Regions from separate parts of the Homo sapiens genome. Here region 1 is linked to region 2. A link means that fine-mapping ties the variant in region 2 to the expression of a gene that starts in the linked region. Tissue or cell type: whole blood. Region 2 holds a variant in brackets; the other region holds the start of a gene. All regions are shown on one strand. Distances are from middle to middle.

Region 1 (8,089 bases), 31 kb before region 2:
GGAAAGGGAGGAGAAGCTCTGGAAAGTTCCATGCTGTGACCTGGGGGGATTAGCAAGAGTGTAAACATGTAAACAGTCAAGCCGAGTGCTTAAAATTTGGGCATTTTCGCTATGTAAATTATACCCTAATTCAAAAAAATCAAGAACACCATATCCCAGGAAAACTTAATATAAAATATTGACACCAGCACGGATCTTGGTGAAGCTATTCAAGGTTATGGATGAGGAAAGAATGACCAAGGCATCCAGGCAGAAGAGGAGCGTTTCAGAGAAAGGGCAGAGGCCAAGGGCTTCCCAGTGGTGCAGGCTCAGCACAGTCCTGCAAGGAAAAACCTAAAACCCAACCACATGCCCCAAGCCCTTGCTATTCGCCATGCCCTCCGTCGAGTGTAATGGCTACAGAGGGCATTCTAGAGCTTTCAGGAGCTCAGCATGCAGCCCCTCTTGCCTGCCCCCGTGGAGCCCTCTCCCCAGATGGGAGCTGGGCTCAGGGTCCTGCTGGATGGGCACATGGACCGAGGTCCTGGGAAGCCGCCTGCTCCCACTTGCATCCTGCCTGTTACTCTCGTCACCCAGACGCTGTTCACCCAGGCTCTGCAGCAGGCGCTGGGCTGGATGGTCTACCGTGTAAACGAGGGGATTTCCCATCCCACGGGCTGCTTGAGGAGCAGCAGCCTCACAGAATGGCCATGCACAGAGTGCAGGGCGGCAGGACGGGAAGGCCCTGCCTGGAGTCAGGCACACGAGTGCCACAGTAGTGGCATGATTTTGCCCACCTGAGACTCAAGGACTGGGACACCTGTCCCTCCTCCTCCACCCACGCTGCGGGGAACTGCATGGCTCCTCCGGGCGGGGACCATAGCTTTCCGCCTCAACGTACCTGGGGCTCGGCATGCTGCGTTGAATTTTGGAGTGGATGAGGAGTGAGGGTGTGGCAGGGCGGCTGGAGCTGCCCAACTGCTGAAACTGCTGCAGGTGCCACAGCGGCTGGCTCCCTGAAAGCGTCCTCCTGCCTCTGAGACCGTAGCGCAGGAGGGTGCGAGTGCACCTCCGCAAGGCCTGACGCTGCTGATCCACTTCCTCTCCCCACGATGGGGACACACTTGGCGACAGTTCCATCTGGGGTAAAAGACCCACCAAAAGGTCGCTGGCATGGGCACTCCAGGGACACCAAAGTGGAGTCTGGGAGACCCCTCGGCTTGTGCGGGGAGCATTCCTCCCCGAAATGCTCGTCCACTTCTGGTTACAGCAATCTTTGAGGGCAGGGAGGGTGGCCAGCAGGGGGCATTGTGGAGCAAGCACGTGGGCCTCGGATCCAAGCCTGGGTTCAAATCCGGGCTGTGGGACGTCCTCACCAAGTCTCGATTTCCTCCCGTAAATGAGGGATGCTGGCGCCCCTCTCGCTGTGGGGGAATAGGGCTTCCAGCACTGCTCCCAGCAGATCTCAGACCTCAGGACGTGAAGGTTATTTTAGGGACAAGCTAACCATGAAGTCTATTTAGTGTAACAGCAAGAGCTGCTAAAAACGTGCACAGACATTCCTTGTACAGCCTGAGTATCCCTTATCCAAAATGCTTGGGACCAGAAGTGTTTTGGCGGCCGGGAACAGTGGCTCACGCCTGTAATCCCAGCACTTTGGGAGGCCGAGGCGGGCGGATCACGAGGTCAGGGGATCGAGACCATCCTGGCTAACACGGTGAAGACCCGTGTCTACTAAAAAAAAAAAAAAAAAATTAGCTGGGCGCGGTGGCGGGCGCCTGTAGTCCCAGCTACTCTGGAGGCTGAGGCAGTAGAATGGCGTGAACCCGGGAGGCGGAGCTTGCAGTGAGTCAAGATCGTGCCACTGCACTCCAGCCTGGGCGACAGAGCGAGACTCTGTCTCAAAAAAAAAAGCTTTGGCTTTTTTTGGGGAATATTTGTACCATAGTTAGCAGGTGAGCCTCCCAAATTCCCACATCCGAAATCTGAAGTGTTCCAGTGAGTATTTCCTTTTGTGCGGCATGTCAGCTGCTCAAAAGTTTTGAATTGGGGGTGTTTGGATTTGGGATACTTAGCCCGTAGTGCTGAGGAGAAAATTTCTGTCTCTTCTATTTTTCCTACACTTCCCAAATTTCTTTAAAGAGTATGAATAAATGCTATTGGGTAAAAAGAAATCTGTTTAAAACCTGTGATCTTTAAAGACTTGACCAGGGTATCCCACGCTTGAGGCACTGCCTAGGCCCAGTGAGCCAAGCCCAGCCCGAGTCGGCAGCGCGGCCCCGCCCCCGCAAGCCCCGCCCCATGCCGAGGGCATTTCCGGGCGCTCTAGGCAGCTCGGAGGACCCGTTCGGAAGACTGGCGGGGGACCCCAGGCGAACCCAAGGGTGGCGGGCCAGGGCCGGGCGAGTGCCTGGCGTTGCTCGCGCGGCTGGGGGCCATGGCTGTGGGGCCTCTCTGGGAGGGGTCGCGAGGCTGTGAACTAGCACGGGGCTACGTTGTAGAGAGAGAGATGGGGCGTCACGGAGGCAGGGGGTGCCAGGCAGGGCGCGGCTGCCAGAGGCCCAGAGGCCGAGCTGGGCCCTGCAGGTCTGAGGTGCAGGACCCGATTCTGGCCCAAGCAGGGGCGTCCCACGGCTCGAGCTGCCCGTCCAGGTGGTGTCTGAGGAGAGCCTGGGCAGCGGCCTTGCAGAGGGCAGGCCAGCAGCTCCTGCTTTGAGGGCTTGGAGGAGAACAGATTCCCGAACCAGGCCCATGATCAATGTATTTGGGTATTTGAACTAAATCCAGATTTCCTGGCTTCCCCTGAGGCCTGCTGAATCCCTTGGGGTGGGGCCTGGGAATCTGCGTTTTCCAGTGGGCCTCTCAGGTAGTTGGGTGGTCCCTGAGTGGGTTCCCATGACCCCATGAAACAAGACCCTAGAAAACGCAAGGCAAAGCGGCCTGGTGAGTGGCCAATGGTCTACAGGAACTGGATGTGATCAGAGCGAGACCTGCATCAACTGGGCAGGGGAGGCGTGGAGCCATACCTGAGGAAGAGACCCAGCCGGAACCCAGGGAAGAGCAGGCTGTGAAAACTGGGCAGAAACTTGCGGCGACTCGGAAGACACTGCCAGGAAACCCTCCCCGGGCCTCCTGTGGGGCTTGTAGCAGCCGCAGGGGTTGGCTCTCACCTTCTAGTCCCAGCCAGGTTGTCTTGGAGTCAGCTAATGGGCAAGGCCCCTACCTCTCTTAGGATCTGAGGATGGGAGGGGCTGCGTTTTTCCAGAGGATCTGCACGTGTGCAGGCTGAGTGTTGAGACTTGATTGGTGTCAACTGGCACTGCCTGCCCATGATGCACAAAAGCTACTGTAAGAAACAGGGTCCATGTCTCCAGGGAGCAGGACCCCGTTCTGAGGCCACAACCCCGAGGGCAGTCTCCGCCTGCAGAGTCCTCCCTCTCGCACCGGCTCACCTCGTGGTGAATCCCTTGGCTACGGTTTGGTGTGAGAAAAGAGATGGGTGTTTCACTCCCTGCTGCATCCCTGGTGACGGCCCTGGCATTTCGGGGCATGAGATCTTTGCTTAAAGGTTTTGCGGTGGTCACTGCACAGGGGGTGGGGGTGGGGTCCCTTGGTGCAATTTATCCGATTCTGCTGCGTGGATGACATCCACAGTGTTCCTCTCCAGTGGGGATTATCTGAGACCTTTCCGCATGCCCGCACCCACAGTCCGCTCCCTCACGGCAGCATGAACTCAGGAGGCGGGCGTTCCCACAGTCATTACATTTGCAGGGCCTCTCTATGTCCACTCTGATGCCTGAGGACCAGCGCTTCCACGAAGGTGTGGCCACGTCCAGTGCTGCTCATTGGCTTCTCTCCTGCGGGAATGTTCTGATCCCGAACGGAGCCTGAGCATGCGCGAAACCCTTCCCACGTTCACAAGGTGCTTCTCCAGTGTTCCATTACATCTCACCTATGCACACTACATGCATACGGTTTCCACCGGCTGTGCGTGTCCCTAGAAGTCACATTCACGGCGTTTCTCCCTGGGAGGAATTCTCCCGTGCATGGCTGCTCTGAGACCATTTGCACCTGCGGCCACGCGTGGGCTCCTCGAGGCTTACAAACCAGGCTGGACTCCTGAAGCCCTAGCTGCACTTGGCACTCGGCGAGGTTTTTCTACAAAATCTCATCTCAGCCATCTGAGTCCTTCACCATTTATCTTATGAATCCGCTCGAACGTACAAGGAAGGCCTCTCTGCCCTCCTGCTCCAGGGAGGAGGTTTTGACCCTCAGCTCCACCTCTGCGGCTGGCCCGGTCTCCGCAAACCTTTTTCTGCTTGGCCAGCTGGTGCCATGCTAGGCTTTCCCACTAGGGGCGCCAGAGAAAGCGCGCGAGGCTGCGGAGGAGAGAGGGGCACACTCTTTCCGGTTTGCTTCCGGTTTTTTCCTCAGGCTTCCGGTCTGTTTGGTGCCCTGGTCGCGTGTCTTCCGAACTCTGCTGCTTCGCCCCGGCAAGAGCACTTCCTTCCGCGGCTGCTAAAACTGGTGCGCGGGTTCCCAACTTCGCAGAAGAGCTTCATCGGCCCCCCGCTAGAGACCTCAGACCGCAGCCATCGACGCCTCGCCTCGGGGATCTGTCCCCACCCTCGGGGCCAGGTCAGGGACCAGAGACCTGCGAAGCCCTCTCCTTAGGGGTTTAGTTCCCAGGCTTTCTGACCCCAGTAATTCCAAACGCTTCCCTTTGTTTCCACAGCCCTAGCGTAGCAGGTGCTCCCTGCAGTTTTTGCTTCTGAGATAGAGTTCTCTTTTCAGCTCCTTCGGTAGTCACTTCGTACATAGTGATTCATGATGCGAAATCCTCTCTGTTGAAATAACTGACGAGGCCTCTGTCTTCTGACTGGACCCTGACTTCCATGCCCTTTCCACTCTCACTCCAGTACATGCCCAAACCCCAATCTTTGTTGCTCCAGGCATTGCCTCTGTGGCGCTGTGTCCCCTCCTTTGAACTCTGATCCTTCTGCTCAGGCCCTTTCTCCCAGTCTGAAGTAAGGAGTGAAAAAATGTGAATTGTTCTACTCATCTGGAAAAGAGAACCCTGAGGCAGGAACAAGTCGTTAATTGCATGTGCGTTTGTCCACAGCTCACCATGAGTCAGGCCCTGTGCTAGGTGCTGGGATGAAGCAGTGACTGACACAGGCCTGGACCTGTCCTTGGGAAGAGTGCGTCTGTGACACAGATACTGTGCCATGTGGCAAAGTAAGCGCGTGGGACAGCAGAGCCTTGTTTGCCATTAAAGTAATATCACAAGTCTGTTAAGGTTGGAGAATCAAGTGAACATGCTGAAAAGTTATGGGGAATGTAGTCTCATAGCTGGGGGAGCTGGGGGCCTTGTCAATTGGTTCCCCCAGTCTGGAGAGCAATCTGAGAGTAAGTAGTGACACTGTGTGTGCTGAGTGTGTCTGTGGGGGTGTTTTTGGATAAAATTAACATTTGAATTTGTGAACTGAGTGAAGCAGAGTGCCCTTCATAATGTGGGTGGGCCTCATTCAATTAGTTCAAGGCCCGCATAGGAACCACCTCCTGCCTGACTGAACCGGGACCTACGTCTTTTCTTGCCTTCAGACTTGAATGGAGACATCAGCTCTTTGTGGGTCTCAAGTCTACTGGCTTTCAATCAGCTCTTCTGCTTGACAGCTGCAGGTCTTGGGACTGCCCAGCCCCCATAACCCTGTGAGTGCATTCCTGATAATAACCCTCTTTCTCTTGTCCTCCCCCACCCCACATCATTGGTTCTGTTTCTCTGGAGAACCATAATACATCATTTACTAATCAGGAAATAGATTCAGAGACATTAATAACTCATCCAACCTCACAGTTAACTGTAGAGTTGGGCTTGAAATTCCAAGGTCGATTTTCTTAGCCAATACACCATGCTACATATATGTATGTAAAAATAAAAACGCTTGTGAACTGAAAAGGGTCCAAACTTAAGCTCATTTTGGTCCTTAATTGCTAATCCATAGGCATGTTTTGGTCCTTAATTGCTAATCCATAAGCATGTTTCGGTCCTTATTTGCTAATCCATAGGCCTGCACACCTGCCCCCAAGGCCATGGTTAGGTCAGCACTTGGCCCTCCCCTTGTCTGGGGCTGCCAGAAGCTGCCTCAGAAGACCTCTCCCTGCAGCTCCAGTGCTTTAGGGTTCAGCGCCCCTCCAGGGCCTTTATTTCCTTCTGGGCTCAAAAGCAGATACTGTGCCAGATACAGATGATCACTTTCTGGGTTCCAGAACTCACATGCACCCCTTTTCCTGGTCTCTCACATTTGCTGTGACCAACCCAAGCCTCAGGTGGTCCTCTGCTGAGACTGTCCACTCACGCTGTTGACAGAGCCCTTCCAGGAGCTCTTTTTGTGGGGATTTGCTATGTACCTGGCACTGTGCAAAGAACCCCACCCATGCCGTCCTTGCAGCCGCCATGTGCGGTGCGGAGCGGGCTGCGCTAACCACCATTGTCAGAGGCAGAAACAGGCTCCGTGAGGAAGGATAAGTGTGGGTTATGGAATCAGGGCTGGCAGATCCCAAACCTTGGCTCCCAGATACCATGGGATCTTTAGGAAGATCCCTGGTCACTTCGGGGAGGAGAGAGAGGGCGAAGGCTGAGAATCGGGGTCCTGGGTCGGAGGAGGGAGAGGGGTGGTGGTGTGGGCTTGGAGGTGGTGTGGGTTGGAGATTGGCCGTTGAGCTGGAGATGCTCCAGGTGGTCTGCGTCCAGGTTCCTCTGGTGGCGGGGGATGGGGCAGAGCCGGCAGGGGTGGGACGGGGCTCCGAGCCAGCCCCGGGGGCGGCCACCCGGACAAGCGGCCCTCGTGTGACGCAAATCGAAGGAGGATGGGGAGAGGCGTGACCAAGAGGCCGAGCACAGCTCAGGGTCGCAGGCGTCCCGGGAGGGCTCAGGAATATCACGTCCGGTTCAACTGCACGCTGATAAACCCGGCAGCCACCACAAGGTAGAAAAATGCCCTTAAAAGTCCACGCCTGGGTCCTGCCGGGCCGCTCTGGGGTTCCCGAGAAATGTTGAGTGGATCAGATGGCACGTTCGAGAATCAGCCCCGTGCCCGCGGGCTTGGAGAAGGCACTGAGGACACTGGGAAAGACGTAAATGCCATTTCAGCGCATCTCGCGGGCCCTGCCCAACGAGGGAGGACACAGAGACCTTGCAGAGAGTTTAGGACCCGGCGCGGAGGAACAGCCCTGCCTGGCCCAGGACCCGCCGCACCCCACTTCCTTCTCCGGGAAGCCTCCCGTCAGCTGCCGCTGCGGGAGTCTCGTGCGGGCTGCCGCGAGTGCGCATGGCCCCGCCCCCTCCCCGCCCCTCCAGGAGCTGCGGCCACTTCCGGGACTATCTGGGACGGCGTGGAGGACCGCCGGGCTCCCCTCTCCGGTCGCAGCGGGCGGGAGTCCAACCCGGGCGCCGGGGTCGCCCTCTCCAGGTCTCACCTGCCCTCCTGCTGTGACTCCTCCAGAACCCCCGGCCTGGCCCCCAGGTGTGCCCGTGGTGGGCCTGTGAGATCACTGTCCTGTTGAAGACGAAGGCTACCGTCCCCGCTTTTTGGCGGTGTCTGCGGGGGCCTGCGCAGCGCGCATCTGATGTCATCAGCCCCCAGCAAGCCCGTTTTCCAGAGAAGAACCCGGAGGCTCCGAGGTGACTCGTGGCTTGCTCGAGGTCACACGATCAGTGACGGCACCAGATGAATCCCCTAGTAGAGCCAGCACCTCGGCCTGGCTGCCCACGCGTGTTACTGAACAAGGAGAATGCAGGCGTCCTCACCCTTACCTTTCAGGCAGACAGTCTGAACCCCAGGCCCACCGCACACCAGCAAGGACGCCTCAAGTAGGCGCCTGCCTCCCAGCTGACTTCGGACAGACACACTGACCTCCAGCCCGCACCCCTAAACTCGTTCTCACCTGGCAGAGTGGGGCGTCCAGAGCGCTGGTGGCCATAGGGCCCCCAGAGCATGGTCTGGAGAGGGTGGCGGGGGCTGGCAGAGCCTGGGGCCGTCTTCCCCAAGGGGCTGCACAGGGCCCTGTGCCGCAGGCTCCCAAGCCGGGCAGCCGCGTTCCGGGGGCT
Region 2 (8,077 bases):
CTTACGACGTCACGTATTACGGTTCTTGTTCTTGGCAACCCTGTGGGGTTAAGCACTGTCAGCATCGCCATTTCACACCTGGGAAAACTGAGGCAAAGGCCCCACAGTTCCAGAGTGAGGGTCAAGTCCACAGCCCCTGACTTGAGAGCTATGCTCTTGACCCACTACGTGCGTCCTAGAAATCAAAGACATCAGATTAAAGTGTGAGTTTAGGATCAGGAACCCACCTGCCTGCTGCTAGAGAGGCTGAGGTGGTCCTGCCAGCCATGCGCTGCTGCAGGCGTCTCTGTGGGCATGACCTGGGGCTGGCATTTGGTGAGATGTCAATCCACACCTGGGAATCCGTCCTATTGGCCCTAAATATGGAAAAGATATTTATTGTGGCATTATTTATAATAACCTAGGTTGGAAACAGCCCACATGCCCATGCTGGGAAGTGGATAAGTCACCTGTGCCTTTTCGATTCAACTGGTCATTGTGCAGGCATTAAAAGTAATGCTTCCTTCCTGGCCAACATGGTGAAACCCCGTCTCTACTAAAAATACAAAAATTAGCTGGGCGTGGTGGTGCGTGCCTGAAATCCCAGCTACTCGGGATGCTGAAGCAGGGGAATCGCTTGACCGCGGGAGGTGGAGGTTGTGGTGAGCTGAGATCGTGCCACTGCACTCCAGCCTGGCAACAGAATGAGACTCTGTCTCAAAAAAAAAAAAAAAAAAAAAGTAACGCTCCCTATTGTCAGTAACGGGGAAAAGCAACGATCATACTATCATAAGTAAAATCAAACCAAATGCAGACACCACCAGGGAATGCGTGCCCGTCTCCTGGGCCATCCTAGACAGCCGTGTCCACACTTGCCACCCTCTGTGGCACATCCCGACAGACAGCAGAGGATGCCTGCTCTGAGCAGCTCCCTGTCCCGCCCCCTGGTTTCTTTCTTGTGTCCGAGTTCCTGACTCCTGACGCCGGCTCTTCCCTGCCAACAGCTAATTCTGAAGGACACTAAGACACAGAGAGCGTGTGCAAGGACTGGGAGTTGTGTTAGTTCATTGTGTGTTACTATAAAGGAACACCCGAGGCTGGGTAAGTTTTTGTAACGAGGTTTACGTGGCTGGCGGTTCTGCAGGCTGCACAGGTATCTGCTTGGCTTCTGGTGAGGCTGCAGGGAGGGAGCAAGAGACGGGAGGAGGCACCAGGCTCTTTAATGCAGGAGTCCCTGACCTCAAGACGGGTCCATGGCCTGTTAGAAGTGGGTCACACAGCAGGAGGTGGGTGGCAGGCGAGTGAGCGTTACCGCCTAAGCTCCGCCTCCTGTCAGATCAGCGGTGGCATTAGATTCTCACTGGACCACGAACCCCACCGTGAACTGCATGCGAGGGATCTAGGTTGCACGCTCCTTATGAGAATCAAATGCCTGATGATCTGAGGTGGGACAGTTTCATACTCAAACCATCCACACCACTCCCTGTCCACGGAAAAAACTGGTCCCAGGTGCCAAGAAGGTTGGGGACCACTGCTTTAAACAACAAGCTCTCCAGTGAACCTCAAGAGTGAGAGCTCACTCATTACTGTGAGGAGGGCACCAAGCCATTCTCGAGGGATCTGTCCCCGTGACCCGAATACCTCCTGCCAGGCCCCTTCCCACACTGGGGATCACATTTCCACATAAGATCTGGAGGGGACAGACGTCCAAACTATACCAGGAGCTCGAATGCACCCTTCACCTAGGACAGGATCGGCAAGCAAATCCGGCCCACCTCCTACGTTTGTAAATAAAGTTTTATTGGCACAGCCACGCTCGTTCATTCATATGCCATTGACATCTGCTGTTGCCCTACACAGCAGGGTGGGGACCTGCTCTTCACGGGAGAGCTAGTTGTTTAAAGCAGTGGTCCCCAACCTTCTGTGGTCCCCCGTGGGTGCTGAGGCACAGGCTGTATGGCTGCAGTGCCAAGAATATTTCCTGCCTGACCCTTCATCGGAGAAGCGTGCCCACCTGTGCTCTAGATTCCCCATGACTGACATTTAGCCACTCTCCTCTGTCACTCTCCGGGGACGTGCACACACCGTTGGCATGAACTGCAGACGCCACGCTCTGCGGCCAAGAGCCTCAGTGTGCATCTGCAGTAGGAGGACGTCAGTGAGGACCGCCCCGTCCCTGCTGCGCTGGTGCTGACTGTGCCTGCAGTTGACTGTGCCTGCAGTTGACTGTGCCTGGAGTCTACAATCCAGGTCGGCCAAACGTCCCAGCAAAGTCCTTCAAAGCAACTCTTCCGATCCAGGATCACACGTCACACGTGCTCTGATGCCTGCTTCTGAACAATTCACCTCCTGATATGTCCATTTCTGGGAGTGCGAGTATTCCTCTCCTGGTGACAGCTGGCTGAGGCCGTCCAGCCTCAGGACATACCGGGAACGGCTGCATAAGGAGATCCGGGCCAGGGGGCCCACCAGGATGTCCTGCCCTGTGGGGGTCAACACTGGCCGTGGTCCGCCGGCGGCATCCAGGGACAGTCTATCTAGGTGAGGCTGAGGCTGCCCGCCCCCTCGCTCCCTCACCCCCTCACCCCCATGCTGACGGCAGTGGGCTGACCACAGCCCCGGGGAGCCCCACGGGAAGACTGGCCTCCCCAGCACACGCCCAATAGTGTGAGACACAGTCATCACAGAGGCAGGTACACGACACCACGGGACTTGCCACCTACCTACCCCCATTGGGACCACGGGCCATTGAGAAGCCACGAAGGCCGTGCTTCCAGCAGCGACTGAGGCGGCAGGACCATCAGGAGGCCACAGGCGCCACGGCTCCCCTCTGGTGGTTCACCTGCTCACCTGCGCTGGGGAGGCCCCTCCAGTGTGTGTGGTCCCGAGAGCAGAACCCCCCCAGGCAACACGTCTGATGAAGGCCAACACAGCCTCAACCCAAACAAAGGCAGGGCCCGCAGGCGAGCACAGCCACACCAGCAATGCCATGGGGGCATGGCGGGGTGGGGCCTTCCGCATGGACCAGCCTGCCTGGGTCCGCAGCCAGCCCAGGCACTGAGTGTCACCCGACCTCAGAGAGCCCTACAGCCATCTGGGAGATGCTGCCCTGCGGGTCAGGACCCAGTGTGAGCAGGTGACGGGCTGGGCTCTGGGACCTGCTATATAGAAAGTTAACCAGGCCAGAGGCAAAGCTAGTGTGGGTGACAGTGTGGTTCTGGGATTTACGGGAGTTTTATTTTCCAGTTCTAGGCTATTTCTATTTCTGCGGGGAAGGGGAAGTGAGGAGACACATCTGTCAGTGCAGCCCATGGGCAGTGGGCATGAGAGAGGCTGGGAGCCGAGCAGCCTCCCCACGATACTACAAGTGGCAGCACTCAGGACCCCCTGCCATGGAACAGGCTCCTCTGTCCAGGCCAGCAGCAGGAGCAGCCGGGAGAAGAGACACACTCTGCGTGTGGAATGTGCTTCCAACACGTCTGAGTGCAGAGGGACTGAAGCATCCTCCCAGTGGGAGGGGAGGCCTGCCGAAAGGCTCCCTTTCCAAGTGACCCCACAGTGGCCAAGCTGGTATGGGGCCTACACAGACAGGCAGGAATATTACAGCCCTCAGAAAGACCGCGGCAGGAAAAATGTGTTAACCCAGTAAACGTTTCCACCCAGACAGGACTGCTCTCCATCATCCGGGCAGTGTACCCTAGTCCATTTCTGAGACTGCTCAATGGACAAGGCCAAGGCCATCTCCAGCTCGAATCGGGACCCTCCTTCCAGGACAGAATCCCCAAAGACTAGGGCCGTGATTAGTGTTTCACGTCTAAACAGCTGAAAACATAGGCGCCAACATTTCCCAATAAAAAACCTTACCTCCTGGTTTACAAAGTCATTTGCTACCCTCTTATAAACCACAGTCCCTAGAGAGCACAGGATCCCGTCCACACTGCTCCTGGATGGACACAAGGGTGGCACAGGCCTGTGGACCTGCCACTGGGTGGGACAGGA[C/G]TGGGTACAGGCATGAAGAAGTAGAACTAACCTGAATGCTGGGCTGGTCTGTGGGGCTGGGGCCCACCGCCCACGTCGGAAGGCCGAGGGGCAGATGCAGGCTGGACCGAAGCTGCCGAGGGCACCCCAGGGGCCCCACTGCATGGCTGGGACGGGAAGCTCAGCAGGTGGTGGTGTCCAAGGTCCTGAGGAACCTTTGTCCCAAGTCCATCCAGGTAAGTCAGGCCGCCTCTCTGGGAGGAAGGCTGGGCCAAGAGGGCACGTGGTGTGGCCCAGTTCCGGGGACGGGGGTCTGAGCTCAGGGACTGGCACTCCAGCAGGAGGAGAGAAGCCAGAGGACCAAGCACAGTTGGGGCACAGAGGCCGGGCAGGGACAAGCGGCCCCGGGCACTGAAGCTGGCTGGGCAGGGATGAGTGGTCCCAGGGCTCGCTGCAGAGCTCGGGGACCCAGAGGGCAGAGAGTCCAGACTGGGGCCTTCAGCGGCAGATGAAAGGCTTAAGCAGAGTGGACATCACAGGCAGGCAGCAGCGGGAAGTGCTGGGCTGCCCACTACACCAGGAGCCTCTCCTGCTGGGTGCTCTGAGGTGACCCAAACACGTCCAATGGATGGCAGTGAATACTCCCTGGTCTCTGGTGCTGAGCCCCGTTCGCCATCGGGAACTTGGAAAATGCTCTGTGGCTGCAAGGAGCCTCTGGTGGCTTCTCCATCACTGCGGTGTCTTGATCAGAGAGACTCTCTGCAGTGGAAAGGTCTCTCCCTCGCTGGCACGTTCCCACATCTGACTGGGCTGCTTTTCCGGGGGTCCCCAGGGCACGGAACACAGTGCGCACGGCCCTGCGCCCCCATCAGACGCGGGACACGAGGGAGCCACGGAGCAGGTGTCCGGCGAGGCTCGCACCGCAGGGCCCGAGTCCGCAGATGGCCCCGGCTCAGGGCTTCTTCCGAGGGTGGCGTTTCTGATGGCGGATGAGACAGGAGCTGTAGGCAAAGGCTTTCCCACAGTGCGTGCATTCGTAGGGCTTCTCCCCGGTGTGCGTCTTCTGATGTTTCAGGAGATTGGAGCCGCAGTTAAAGGCTTTCCCGCACTCCCCGCATTTGAAGGGCTTCTCTCCCGTGTGAGTCCTCTGGTGTTTGGTGACGTCAGAGCTGTGCCGGAAGGCCTTCCCGCACTGCGCACACTTGAAGGGCTTCTCTCCAGTGTGGACCCTCTGATGGCGAATGTGGTCTGTCTTGTGCTTAAAGATCCGCCCACACTCACTGCACTCATAGGGTTTCTTCCTCTGAAAAGGAATGAACACGGGAACCCCCTCAAAGTCATCTTTAAATGAAGCGTCGAAGGCATCAAAGACGTGCTCTTCGTCTTCAGGACTCAGGCAGGGCTCTGTGCGGGGCTTCCTGGGCACAGTGGGCCTCTCAGGTGGCTTTCTGTCCCCGGACACCTTCTCCTCTCTGAGCGCACTCTTCTGCACGTCTGCCTCCTCCCTTGGGGTCGGCGTCTTCTTTTTTCTGCCTGCAGGCTTCTCCATCATTCTGTTCCTTGGAAGCGTGAGGGCTAAGGGGCTGCTGACCTCTCTGTTGGCCCCACTTCCTCAATGGCTTGCTTCCCACGCACCTCTCCACACTCCCAGCGTGGGACTGATGCTCTGCACCAGGAGGCCAAGGGCCACCATCCTCTTGGTGCTGGGGAGAAGCAAGAACATGAACCTCAGATTAAAGGTTTGCCTTTCAGGGGATGTGGGATTCAGGTGCGGCCCCTCCCTTCCCATGTGTTCCCCCAAGAGTGTCTCAAACGGCATTGCTGATCTCCCCGGAGCCCCACCTGACTCTCTCCCGGCCTTTCCTTGTCTCGATGAAGGGATCAGTTGCTCACCAAGGAATCCTTGCTCCTCTGCCGGGGTTCCGGGTCTGCACACCATGTCCACAGGATCTGATGTACCCACCAACTGCCCTGCGGCTTCCCTCCTCCACCCCCGAATCCCCCTGGTTCCTGCCGTAGTCTCCTTCTCCACCATACTGGGCTTGGAACCAGTCACCGTGCTTTGAAGCTACAGGCTGCAGGGACCACACGTGCCCAGTGGAGAGTGCTTCCATCCCCCAGAGGCTGGGTTCTGAGTTCATGAAACCAGGGCTGCCCCCCTGCCATGGACCACAGCAGCCAGCAGAACCCCTCATGTCACATCCTTCCCACCTCAGCTTCCTGAGTAGCTGGGACTACAGGTGGGAGCCACCATGCCCAGTCATATTCTAAGAAATAATATTCCGTACCCTTTGTATTAGTTCTTGGTCAACCAGGCTGGAGTTTGAGGCCAGGGTTGACCCTAGGTAGAAAGTGGAGCTGATATGCATGTCGTAAGTGACACAACTCAACACATAAATACTTTGAATTCTCTTTGTTGAGAGGAGGTTGGTGGCCTTCCCTCCTCTCCCTCATGAGTGCAGGTAACACATAAACTCACTACAGATTTCCTATCTCAACAAGGAGGGTCTGGTCTTTTCTACAGGAAAATGTTTAGATGAATGTGACTCAGTTTCAGGCCAACATCACTTTCTAGGGCTCTATCTAGAGGTGGCGTGTGGGAGGAGGCAGATCAGGTGGGCGCCAGAACTGAAGATGAAGGCCACGTGTGCTGAGGGAGGATGCAGGCATAAAGCAGCATCTCTGCTGGGGTGGGCAGGGGGTGGGCCCTGGTGCCCAGGATAGAGGATCACAGCCCAAGCTGGCTGGAGTTTGAGGCCGGGGTCCAGCTCTGGTAGGAAACAAAGGTGAGAACCAAGAACCAGCACAGAAGACCAGTCGACCAGCTGTTTGCCTCATGGGCAGGGCGGAGCTGGAGAAACGGCAGCTCTCCAGGGCATGGCGGGAACCTATCTGGCTCTCTGCAGACTCCACTCCACGGCGGGGCGGGGGGTGGTTTGTGAACCCACTGAGCCTAACGGCTGCTGCCCGAGGCCTGTGTGGGGGTCCTCCATGCTGTACAGCACTGTTCCTTCTTCCAGACACTTGTCACTGCACGTGTGGCTGGTCACTGACATGGCAGTCTCCTTATGCGACAGGGTCTCCTGAAGGCGAGGATCGTATCTTTTTTATCTCCAAATCCTAGTCACATACTGTGGTCAGGGAACATTCTCCATAACGGCTCTGTCGACTCAACTTAGGCTGGCAGGTGCTAACCGGCAGAGACTGGAATGACTCACTTCTCTACACGCTGCCCACCCTGAGAAATAAAATATTTCTTAAAAGCAGAGTGGACTGGCCGGGCGCGGTGGCTCATGCCTGTAATCCCAGCACTTTGGGAGGCCGAGGTGGGCGGATCACGAGGTCAGGAGATCGAGACCATCCTGGCCAACATGGTGAAACCCTGTCCCTACCAAAACACAAAAAATTAGCTGGGCGTGGTGGCACGTGCCTGTAGTCCTAGCTACTCAGGAGGCTGAGGGAGGGGAATTGCCTGAACCCAGGAGATAGAAGTTGCAGTGAGCAAAGGTCGCGCCAGTGCACTCCTGCCTGGCGACAGAACAAGACTCCGTCTCAAACAAAAAAACCAAACCAAACCAAAACAAAAAACCCCACACGCAAAAAACAAAAACGGATTGGACCATAGCGATTTTCTTGGCCTCACCTCACAGGCCTGTAGACAGGAGTGATTAGCTAGTTACAAACAGCGCAACCCACGCTTGCCACACCCCTAAAGACTGGGGTTCTGGTTCTGTCGTGCAACTCCAGCGTAGCTCCGTCGCCTCTCTGGGCGGAGGACCCTTCACTTGTAATATGAAGCTCTGGGTATCCGTGGGCGGTAAGGGCTGCCTAGAAAACCTCACTCACCCTGGCGCCTCCCTCCACTACTTTCAGGGATCTGGGTCTCATGGAGAGACTGGAACATTAGTGGGCTTGAGATTCAGGGGCAATCTGCACTAAAACAGCCTGCTGGGTCCACGGCCTGCCAGGGGCCTGCTAGCTGTGCCAAGGCCTGAGATGCCAGGCATCTGAGCCAGGCGGAGGGGCCCGCCAGGGTCCCGTGCGTGCTCCTAGTTAGAGGCTCTCCTTTCAACGGCAGAGCCCCGCGGCCCACGTGCAGAGCTAGGTCGGCCTCGGGGCC

The links. PIP is the estimated chance that this variant, and not a neighbour inherited with it, causes the effect.
Region 1: MINCR starts here. The variant in region 2 is fine-mapped to the expression of MINCR in whole blood (TOPMed, PIP above 0.99).

Annotation. Positions count from the first base shown.
Region 1 is chr8:143,278,010-143,286,098 of GRCh38, reverse strand. It overlaps MINCR (MYC-induced long non-coding RNA), which reads left to right and starts at 4,399. Exons shown (of 3, transcript NR_120682.1): 1 at 4,399-4,617; 2 at 5,102-5,217; 3 at 5,584-5,944. RefSeq lists enhancers at 4,470-4,619, 5,916-6,558.
Region 2 is chr8:143,247,273-143,255,349 of GRCh38, reverse strand. ZFP41 (ZFP41 zinc finger protein) reads right to left here. Exons shown (of 3, transcript NM_173832.6): 2 at 4,010-5,660. The coding sequence starts at 5,506. The coding sequence ends at 4,910. Among named protein-coding and RNA genes, the nearest start is that of ZFP41, 4.4 kb to the right of the region's middle. RefSeq lists an enhancer at 4,166-4,666 and silencers at 7,977-8,026, 8,067-8,077. The variant C/G (reference allele first, on the strand shown) is at 3,979.